Linked DNA regions of Homo sapiens. The protein of the gene in region 1 interacts with the protein of each later gene in a pairwise test. Each region holds a gene or a part of one and is shown in the gene's direction. Other genes may lie near its edges. The genes, in order: PCBD2, PHF14 and TAL2.

What was found.
Region 2: the proteins of PCBD2 (region 1) and PHF14 interact in a two-hybrid assay, tested with the Homo sapiens proteins (one large-scale study listed by BioGRID and IntAct).
Region 3: the proteins of PCBD2 (region 1) and TAL2 interact in a two-hybrid assay, tested with the Homo sapiens proteins (one large-scale study listed by BioGRID and IntAct).

The regions. Positions count from the first base shown.
Region 1 is NC_000005.10:134,957,121-134,960,286, forward strand, and holds part of PCBD2 (pterin-4-alpha-carbinolamine dehydratase 2), read left to right. Parts: intron 1-1,919; coding exon 1,920-2,000; intron 2,001-3,166.
Region 2 is NC_000007.14:11,032,800-11,036,458, forward strand, and holds part of PHF14 (PHD finger protein 14), read left to right. Parts: intron 1-2,840; coding exon 2,841-2,987; intron 2,988-3,618; coding exon 3,619-3,659. UniProt on the Homo sapiens protein: Histone-binding protein. Binds preferentially to unmodified histone H3 but can also bind to a lesser extent to histone H3 trimethylated at 'Lys-9' (H3K9me3) as well as to histone H3 monomethylated at 'Lys-27' (H3K27ac) and trimethylated at 'Lys-27' (H3K27me3).
Region 3 is NC_000009.12:105,660,897-105,663,715, forward strand, and holds TAL2 (T-cell acute lymphocytic leukemia protein 2), read left to right. Parts: upstream 1-1,560; 5' UTR 1,561-1,600; coding exon 1,601-1,927; 3' UTR 1,928-2,228; downstream 2,229-2,819.

The DNA.
Region 1 (3,166 bases):
GGCGTGGTGGCAGGTGCCTGTAATCCCAGCTGCTCAGGATGCTGAGGAGAATCGCTTCAATCCGGGATGCAAAGGCTGCCGTGAGCCAAGATAATCCCACTGCACTCCAGCCTGGGCAGCAGAGTGAGACTCTGTCTCAAAAAGAAAAAAGAAAACTGAGACTGATAGTTAAATTGCATGATAATTAAGTGATAGAATCAGGATTTGAATCCAGGACTCCCTGGCTCAAAAGGCCATGCCCTTAACAATTGCATTGCTGTCTATCAGTGATGTTGATTAGCATTGTACATCTTCTAATGCTAAACAAGAATAAGGCATTATAGGCAGAGTAGAAATTCTCCTTATACGTAGTTTAATGTGGGTTAACTCTATGTTTGAATAATTAGAACAGACTTTCATGGCTGGGCATGGTGGCATGCACCTGTAGTCCCAGCTCCTTGGGAGGCTGAGGCAGGAGGATCCCTTGAGTGATCCCTTGAGCTCAGGAGGTTGAGGCTACAGTGATCTATGATTGTGCCTGTGAACAGCCCCTGCATTCCACCAGCCTGGGCAACATAGTGAGACCCTGTCTCTATAAAAATAAAAAACAGGCTTTTGTCCCTTCCCTTCACATAATCTAGACAATCAGATTATGAGATGAGAAGGGCTGGGAAAGTGAATATTGTTTTTCCACAGATAATTCCATACATGGTCAAATGGATTTTGCTTGAACTTTCTCCCTTTTCCTATAGGGAAAACCTTCAGGCCTCAAATGTCAACATGGAAACTTTTATCCCAAATAAAATTGGCTCCGAGAGAGGTACCATAGTGAATGATATAGAATTGTTTAAAATGGCATCTTCTGTATTTCTCACTGTTAACTAGGAAATACACACTTAGGTCATTTGGTGATCCCAAAAACATGGCTTGACTAACATCATATTGGTTTTTCTGGATAGGGGTAATGAAGTTAAATATTTGTTTACGTGGGTGTAATGGGTATTGCCCTGTGAATGCCACTCTAACTTTGTAATTCATGTGCCATTACCCTAAGAGTCTTACCAAGTATTTGTGCATTCTGGAACAATAGAGACAGACTCTCCTATTGTTTGCAGTTACCTTCATAAAAAATTGAAAACAAACAAAAAAATGAGTTTTTTCCTTCTTCTGAAGACAAGTTTACCTTCTGCTTAACAAAATTGTTTCCACTCCCCGTGTGGTATAAAGACAGAGCCCCGTCAGTCCACACTTAGTCGTGTGACTGGTTTGCAGCCCTCTGCTCATTTCCTGGCTTGCCTTCTGCCCTGAGGTGGGTGCACTGTCACCTTGAAATGGCAGTGCAGGGCAGTAGCAGGAAGAACCCAAGCAGGCAAGCTGGGCTTCTGTTTCACTCTAGGTGCCAATAGTCTTTGATTTGTTCCTGTCCTGCCTGGGAGGTGAGATGAAGAAGTTGTTCATTTCTGCTGGTGCTTTTGCTTAAGACACCCTCAGGAGACCTTTTTCCATAGTCTTGTGGGTTGCCTTAGTTAGCAACCCAATCACTAAAAACAAAAGGAACAGAGCTGCAAGAAAAGTGGCTCCTAATATTTGGAGCCAGGTAGTGAGACCCAGAGCACTGGGTTGAAGGGAAATTATTCCCGTGCTATTTTGTAGAGTCTTGTCCTGAGGACAATTAAATAGTCCAGACGGGTCACTAGGTGAGACCAATTTCCTGGTTTGTTTACTCGAGCCTGATAGTTTTTCACCATCCAGCAGTAGGTCACAGTCCTGCTGCACTGTGACCCCAGAGGCCTGCAGAGAGCAGTCCTTTCATAGTTGATTTCCACAGGCTTCCCTAAGGATCCTTGCCTGCCTTTATGTGGTTGGATTGCTCTGTTGTGTCTCTCAGGCTTAGGGTAGAGGACAATGTCAGTAATTACTCTTGACTTCATCTTATGCAGGCATTTGGCTTTATGTCCCGAGTTGCCCTACAAGCAGAGAAGATGAATCATCACCCAGAATGGTTCAATGTATACAACAAGGTAACTAAACTGCCTTATTTGGGAATCACCTTAATTATGGAGTTTAAGAAACTTCTTTCTTCCTTGTCATCTTGTGCAGCTAAATGTCATTGTACTTAAGAAAGTCTTATCCTTTCTCTCAGAATCCCTGTGTATTATTGCAAATTAGTAACACATTTTCAGGTCTGCTCCTAAGAACAGTGAATAAGCTCTTTATTTTCATGCTTGTCTTTCTACTGAAGCTAATATGAGAAAGTTGGGCCAAATGAGGCTCCTGAATTAAACCGGAGTATCAGCCATGCAGATACGTTTCAAAACTTAAGGTAAATTATTGAAAGAAATGGTAGCAAATCAGATAGATATGGCCTCATTTATCTCGTTGAAATATTTTTACTCAAGAACTGTGCTTTGAAAACTATTAAATTTTGTATCCTGCGTAGGAAATGACCTTATTTAAGACAAAGGACAGACTAAAAAGTTTTGAGGGAACACAGTGAGAAGAACCTTGTTCCTCCCAAAGTGTCCTTGCCTTTATGGTCATGCCATTTGAAATGTCTTATCATCTAGATTTCTATGAAGTCTTCTCTGTGAAAATCTTTGAAAAAAGAGAATTTCACAATACTCACGTGACTTAATAGAATAACTCAGAGCACCTTGGTACCAGGCTAAACTTTTCTTTGCTATTTGCTTCTCTTTGCTCGTAATTTTGCTTTTACTTTATAATCAGTTCATCAAGAAACAGCATTCCATCCTTTACTCCCATTTCCCTAATTTAGAAATGTGCTTTTTTTTTTTTTTTTTTTTTTTTTGAGTTGGAGTCTGGCTCTGTTGCCCAGGCTGGAGTGCAGTGCTGCGATCTCAGCTCACTGCAGCCTCCACCTCCCGGGTTCAAGCGATTCTGCTGCCTCAGCCTCCCGAGTAGCTGGGATCACAGGCGTGCAGGGTAACTTTTATATTTTTAGTAGATACGGGGTTTCACCATGTTGGCCAGGGTGGTCTCAAACTCCTGAACTCAGGTGATCCGGCCTCCCAAAGTGCTGAGATTACAGGTGTGAGCCACCATGCCCAGCCAAAATGTGCTTTTTAAACGTTGCTGCTAAGATATTACATTTGATAGCTTGGTTTTTCTCAGTGGCCTGAAAATAGTTGATGTAATTAAAGTAACGAGAGTTCAATTGGAACCTCAG
Region 2 (3,659 bases), on another chromosome or scaffold:
GCCCTTGCCTCAGCTCTGCTAAGTCAGAATTTGCAGAGTTGGGCTCTAGTTACCTCTATTTAGAAATCTCCTTAAATGAATCTGATGACAGTCAGGTAATGGTTAAGGAAGATGGATCTTACATACTGGACATAGGTCTTGGTTCAGCAACTTAACCTCTCTGGCTTTCAGTTTTCTATCCATAAAATTGATATTAAAATGGTAGAACCCACCTCATGTGGTAGTGGTGAAGGTTAAAGAGATAGTATATACAAAAGCGCATGTGCTTATTTCATGGTAGATATTCAGAAACATGTTTTTCCCTTTCTGTCTTCCACTGGGAGTAGGATCTTGAAAGCTCCATTTCTCCAAGCAGGTTGAAGGGATATTCCATGTCAACCAATGCATTAATTAGGACATTATTTTGACTGGTTTAACAAAACCAAGTAACGAGTTGCTTAAACGAAGAAGTTGAATTCACTCTAATATACAATTCCAGGCGGATTGGATACTGAGGGGAGTTTGGTTCCAGGGATCAGTTCCCTTCTTTCTTCTTGCTTCACCTTCCTTTAGTCTATTGCACTCTCCTACACAGTCAAAGATGGTTTATCACCATCTTGACTGGATTCTTCCTCATTGGAAGTAGCAAAGAGGAGGTTAAGAGTAGGCAGCTTCCTTTCAAGGGCATGGTCTGGGCATTTCATACAACTTATTGGCCAGAACTTAATCACATGGCCACATCTAGCTGTGGGGAGGCTGGATCAGATAGTTTCTAGCAGGGTAGCCATATGCCCAGTAAAAACTCATAGGGGTCTAGTACTAATGGGAAGAATGGATATTGTAAGACAATTAGTAGTTTCTGCCATAGTAAGTATTGGTGTTTTTCTTAAGTCAGAGTCTTGGTCCAAATGCTTAACTCACCTATGCAAGCATGAATCCTATCTCTAATGACTCAATTTCAACCTCATTTACTTTGAAACATTAGAATAATTATCTAGATCTGGGTATTTGGGCTGAGGTTCGGTATAATCTTTATTTCCATTTAACATCTCTGTCACCAAGATTTAGAGCATGTCATGAGAAAGCAGCTGTTTGTATGTGTTAATGTAGTCTCCTAATTAATTTTTGTATTTAATTTTTAAAGCTATATGAAGTAATTGTAAGTAAACCCTGTTTTACTAATGTGGTAACTGAGGCCCAGAGATGTTAAGCAATTTTTTGAAGTCCCATAGCCTGTAAATGATAGAGCCAAGATTTGTATCCGGGTTTTTATGTCTTCAAATTCTGTGATACACATTGCTGTACTGTGACATCTATAGATATCACACTACAGAATTGCCTCATATGCTTTTTTTTTAATATTAAGGACACATTAGATTTTTTTTTCTTTCTGTTCTTATATGTCTCTCCTCGGTAGTGTTGTCATTTCTCTTTGGGTTGTAAAACTCTACTTAGAGACACTTTTGACATAACTTAGAGAAAAACTAATAGCTTATGTTTACTGTTCCTTTTTGGGACAGACATAAAGAATGAACAGCCTGTTGTTTTGTTAGCAATTACATTGTAAATTACTTTTTTGTACTACATCTTTACAAGTTGTTTTTGATAGAATAAATATTCTTTTTTGTACACTACTTTTTATGAATGAAAATGTACTGTTAGGCTATGAGAGAGCTGTAATTCCACTTGAGTTTTTAGGGAAAGAGTTAAGGGCATAACTTAAATTTTTTTATTGACAGGGCTTAGAATTTCTTAATTCTATTTTTTTTTTTTTTTTTTTTTTTTTTTGAGACAGACTGTCGCTCTGTCACCCAGGCTGGAGTGCAGTGGCGCGATCTCGGTTAATTACAACATCTCCCTCCTGTATTCAAGCAATTCTCCTACCTCAGCCTCCTGAGTAGCTGGGATTACAGGCACATGCCACTGTGCCTGGCTAATTTTTGTACTTTTAGTAGAGACAGGCTTTTGCCGTGTTGGCCAGGCTAGTCTCGAACTCCCAACCTCAAGTGATCTGCTTGCCTCGGTCTCCCAAAGTGCTGGGATTACAGGCATGTGCCACCACGCCTGGCCCTTAATTCTATTTTTATCCTCAGTAGAATCTGTCCATTGTTAGCCAGTTAGAAATGCCACACTTATCTTGTTGGCTAGTTGAATGTTGTTGTTTTGCAATATTAGTTTATGCATAACTTTAATATTTAATGATTATTTCTACTTAAGATTATTAAAATCCTATTTGTTTTAAACAGTGACTTTTTAAAAAAATACAGCCGGCCCTCCGTGTCTGTGGATTACACATTCTTAGATTCAACCAACTGCAGATCGAAAATGTTTGAAAAAAAAAAAGCGTAATAAAAAAGAATACAAATATAAAACCAATACAGTGTAACAACTATTTGCACATTTACATTTGTGTATTAGGTATTATAAGTAATGTAGAGACTGCTTAAAATATGTGGGAGAATGCATGTAAACTAGATGCAAATACCACACCATTTAACATAAGACGCTTGAGCATCCACAGATTTTGGTATCCTTGGGGGGTCCTGGAACCAGTCCCCCATGGATATTGAAGGGCTACTATACAAGTACACCCAAATAATACATTATATTTGATTTCAATATCTTTAAACCTGCAGGCCCTTTAAAGAAAAACGTTGTTGGTAATTTGAAGTTGACATACAAGATCAAGTTTCTAAAGAAGTAATTTTTGTCATTATGTACAAAAATTATTTTTGTAATTTATTAGATGTAACTAGCACTAGTAGATTCTTTGAAAAGGAAGTAATATTCTTTTGTGTTAGGTCTTTTATGACTCTTGGGAGTACAAATGTTCACTATTTTTCTGTGCTTTCTTTGTATAGGATATAGCAGATCCATTCTTTGCTTATTGTAAGCAACATGCAGATAGGTTAGACAGAAAGTGGAAGAGAAAAAACTACTTGGCTCTACAGTCCTATTGTAAAATGTCTTTGCAAGAGAGAGAGAAGCAACTATCACCAGAAGCACAGGTATGGGATTCATGTCAAAACCCGTATGTTTTTGTTTTAAGGTTATGTAAGGATTTTACGTCTCGTGTGGCTTCCAGTGACATGTGACGTATAATAGGAAGTTTGGTTAGTTACCTAGGAAATGGATTGTGATTAAGGTAAATAGTGAGTATAATTTTTGGCTGAATACAGTACTCCTCATTTAGTCAAACAGAGCAGTCCTTTATAAAGTAAATTTTCACATTGAAAAATGTGACTGTGAGGAAATTACTCTATCAGTGCAATATATTTATTACATCTTGTTTCAGTTTGTTCAAAGGATTTAGTCAGTTTGCCTATATTTAAAATATAATTTTATATACATTAAACCTATGGAGACAATAGCAGTTATTAAGAAGAGAAACTTCAGCTTAATTAGTTTCTCAAAACTCTGATTATAAGTTAGGACAGTTGTTACTAGGGGCAGATATAGTTTATTGTAACTCAAAAATTATACAGTATACCTTAAGGATCATTCATACCTATAATTTGCTTTGGTGTGAGAAGTTCTGATTATCTTTCTGTGAACATGGGAATAAAAATCAATGTAAAAATCTTAAGGAACATGTTTCATTTTATTATCTTTTAAAATTTGAATACATTTCTTTTATAGGCAAGGATCAATGCCCGGCTTCAGCAGTATCGTGCCAAAGC
Region 3 (2,819 bases), on another chromosome or scaffold:
CCGGGGTTCTGGCCTTGGAGCCTGTGCTCTTGACCACCATGCATATGGTTCCACTGATGGCTGAGTTACGTGAAGACTCCTGTAGAGTCAGGGCTTGGAAAGGGAAGATCTCACCTGCTGTTTAAAGAAATAGGTAAGTAGAGAGTGGGGAGGAAATTCAAGGAACAGAAAATGACAATGTGCGAAAGTGTAGAGTTGGGAATATTCATGAGTCTTCGGAGGAACTAGAAAGGGCCCAGTGCCCAGAGGAGCTGAGCGTGGAGCAGGCAGCAGACCAATAGCAGTAAGCCAAGAACATCAAACTGCCTGGGGCTAGACTTGGGCTTGTTTGCCAGTGCCTCCCAAGTGTTCCTATTAGCACATGTTAATCCAAGCCACTTGAAAAAAGGGACTCTTGCCTCTAAGAGTGAAAAATGCCTGCATAATGCTCGGCAGTATGTGATGATAAACCACTCTCCTAGACTTGGAAAGGTCATCCAATGCAGCCCCAAAGAGGCCCAAGTATCTTCTACAGAATCCACGCCAAATCACCACTCCCACCTGCCCCTTGTCTTTTCATTTTTGCGAGACTAAATACCCCCACTTCTGTTCTTCATACACCAGGGTTTCAAGACCCTTCATCATTCTGTTCCTGCTCCTCTAAATATAGTCCAGTCTGGATATTTTAGTTCTTACAGAGAGGGGCTGAATCCTCCAGGTGAGGTCTGCCAGCTAACAAGAGAGCTGTATTGTCTTCTCTATTCCAAATTTTATTTTATTAACGAAACCTACAATCATTTTCTTTTTTTACTTCATTCTGATAATACATTGTTGATTCATATTCAACTCTCTGTTGGTGGCCGGGCATCGTGACTCACGCTTGCAATCCCAGCACTTTGGGAGGCCGAGGCGGGTGGATCACCTGAGATCAGGAGTTTAAGACCAGGCTGGCCAACATGGTGAAACCCCATCTCTACTAAAAATATAAAAACTAGCCAGGCGTGGTGGCAGGCGCCTATAGTCCCAGCTACTCCGGAGACTGAGGCAGGAGAATCGCTCAAACCCGGGAGCTGGAGGTTGCAGTGAGCTGAGATGGTGCCATGGCACTCCAGTCTGGGTGACAGAGTGAGACTCCATCTCAAAAAAAGAAAAAAACAAAAAACAAAAAACAAACTTTCTATTGGCCAAACATATGTTGCATTTATACATAAACTCAATCAATATTGTACCTGATTCTGAACAATTAGGAAGAGTTGGTTATAAAGGAAGAAACAGGAGTATTGGGACAAAGCAATCTTTCAACTGGAGGCTTCAAAACAGCCAGAGAGAAAAAGCTGAAGGGTGTTGTTCTTACCTTCCCCTGTTGTTTTTAAGTTAAAAAAAGAAATTATGCATAATTCATAGCGTCACTGATGCCTCGAAAGGTGAGAGGCATATGTTTGTGTCCCTGTGGGGTTGTTTTCTTTTTTAAAAACCTGAAAATGAGGAAATGAATCTCGTAAGCTCTGAGTCGAGAAAATCTAACATCTCAGGTTCTTGGCAGGACATGTGATACCAATCAGGCCTCTTATAAGATATTGGCCCTGAGGGCCCTTTCTCTTTCCATCTCAGGAACTCAAACATGACCAGGAAGATCTTCACAAATACCAGGGAGCGGTGGAGGCAGCAGAATGTCAACAGCGCCTTTGCCAAGCTGAGGAAGCTCATCCCCACTCACCCTCCAGACAAAAAGCTGAGCAAAAATGAAACGCTTCGCCTGGCAATGAGGTATATCAACTTCTTGGTCAAGGTCTTGGGGGAGCAAAGCCTGCAACAAACGGGAGTGGCTGCTCAGGGGAACATTCTGGGGCTCTTCCCTCAAGGACCCCACCTGCCAGGCCTGGAGGACAGAACTCTGCTTGAGAACTACCAGGTTCCTTCACCTGGTCCAAGCCACCACATTCCTTAGTGTGGCTCTGGCTGTCATCTCCCAGGGCAGCACTTGCCCAGAAATCACTGCCTGTGGACAGACTTTTGCATGTTCCAGAGTTGACCTGATGATAACTCGTGAAGCATGAATTCTAGCTTCCTGGGAGGTGGCTCAGAGACAGCTGCAGGGAGCTGAAAGAAGCCATGAGGAATGTCACTTGTGGGCCGCCACCCCCCAGGGATGTCAGGTAGAGCGGCCTACCTCTGCCTATTTTAAATCCAGGTTCTGCATAAGACTTTTGGAGAAAAAATTCTAAATAAAAAAAAAAAAAGGCTGAAAATCACTGTTTATACTCAATGTCTTCAGTTATAAGAAAGAAGTTTTCTCATAATGGATCTCAGATGAATAAGTAGAATATGCTTCCTTCAGAACATATTTTAAAGTTTGTTTTGAAAAATGAGATTTGATCAAGGGTGAACAAAATAAATCTTAAGATTGATGGGCCGGGCACGGTGGCTCACGCCTGTAATCCCAGCACTTTGGGAGGCTGAGATGGGCAGATCACCTGAGGTCAGGAGTTTGAGACCAGCCTGGCCAACATGGTGAAACTCCGTCTCTACTACAAATACAAAAATGAGCCAGGTGTGGTAGTGCGCACCTGTAATCCCAGATACTCAGGAGGCTGAGGCACGAGAATCGCTTGAACCCGGGAGGGGGAGGTTGCAGTGACCCAAGATCATGCCACTGCACTCCAGCCTGGGCAACGGAGCAAGACTCGCTCTCAAAAACAACAATAACAAAAAAAGTTTTCTCATAATGGATCTCAGATGAATGAGTAGCAGCATATGCTTCCCTCAGAACAGATTTTAAAGATGGTTTTGAAAAATGAGATGCATTTGATCAAAGGTGAACAAAATAAATCTTAAGATTG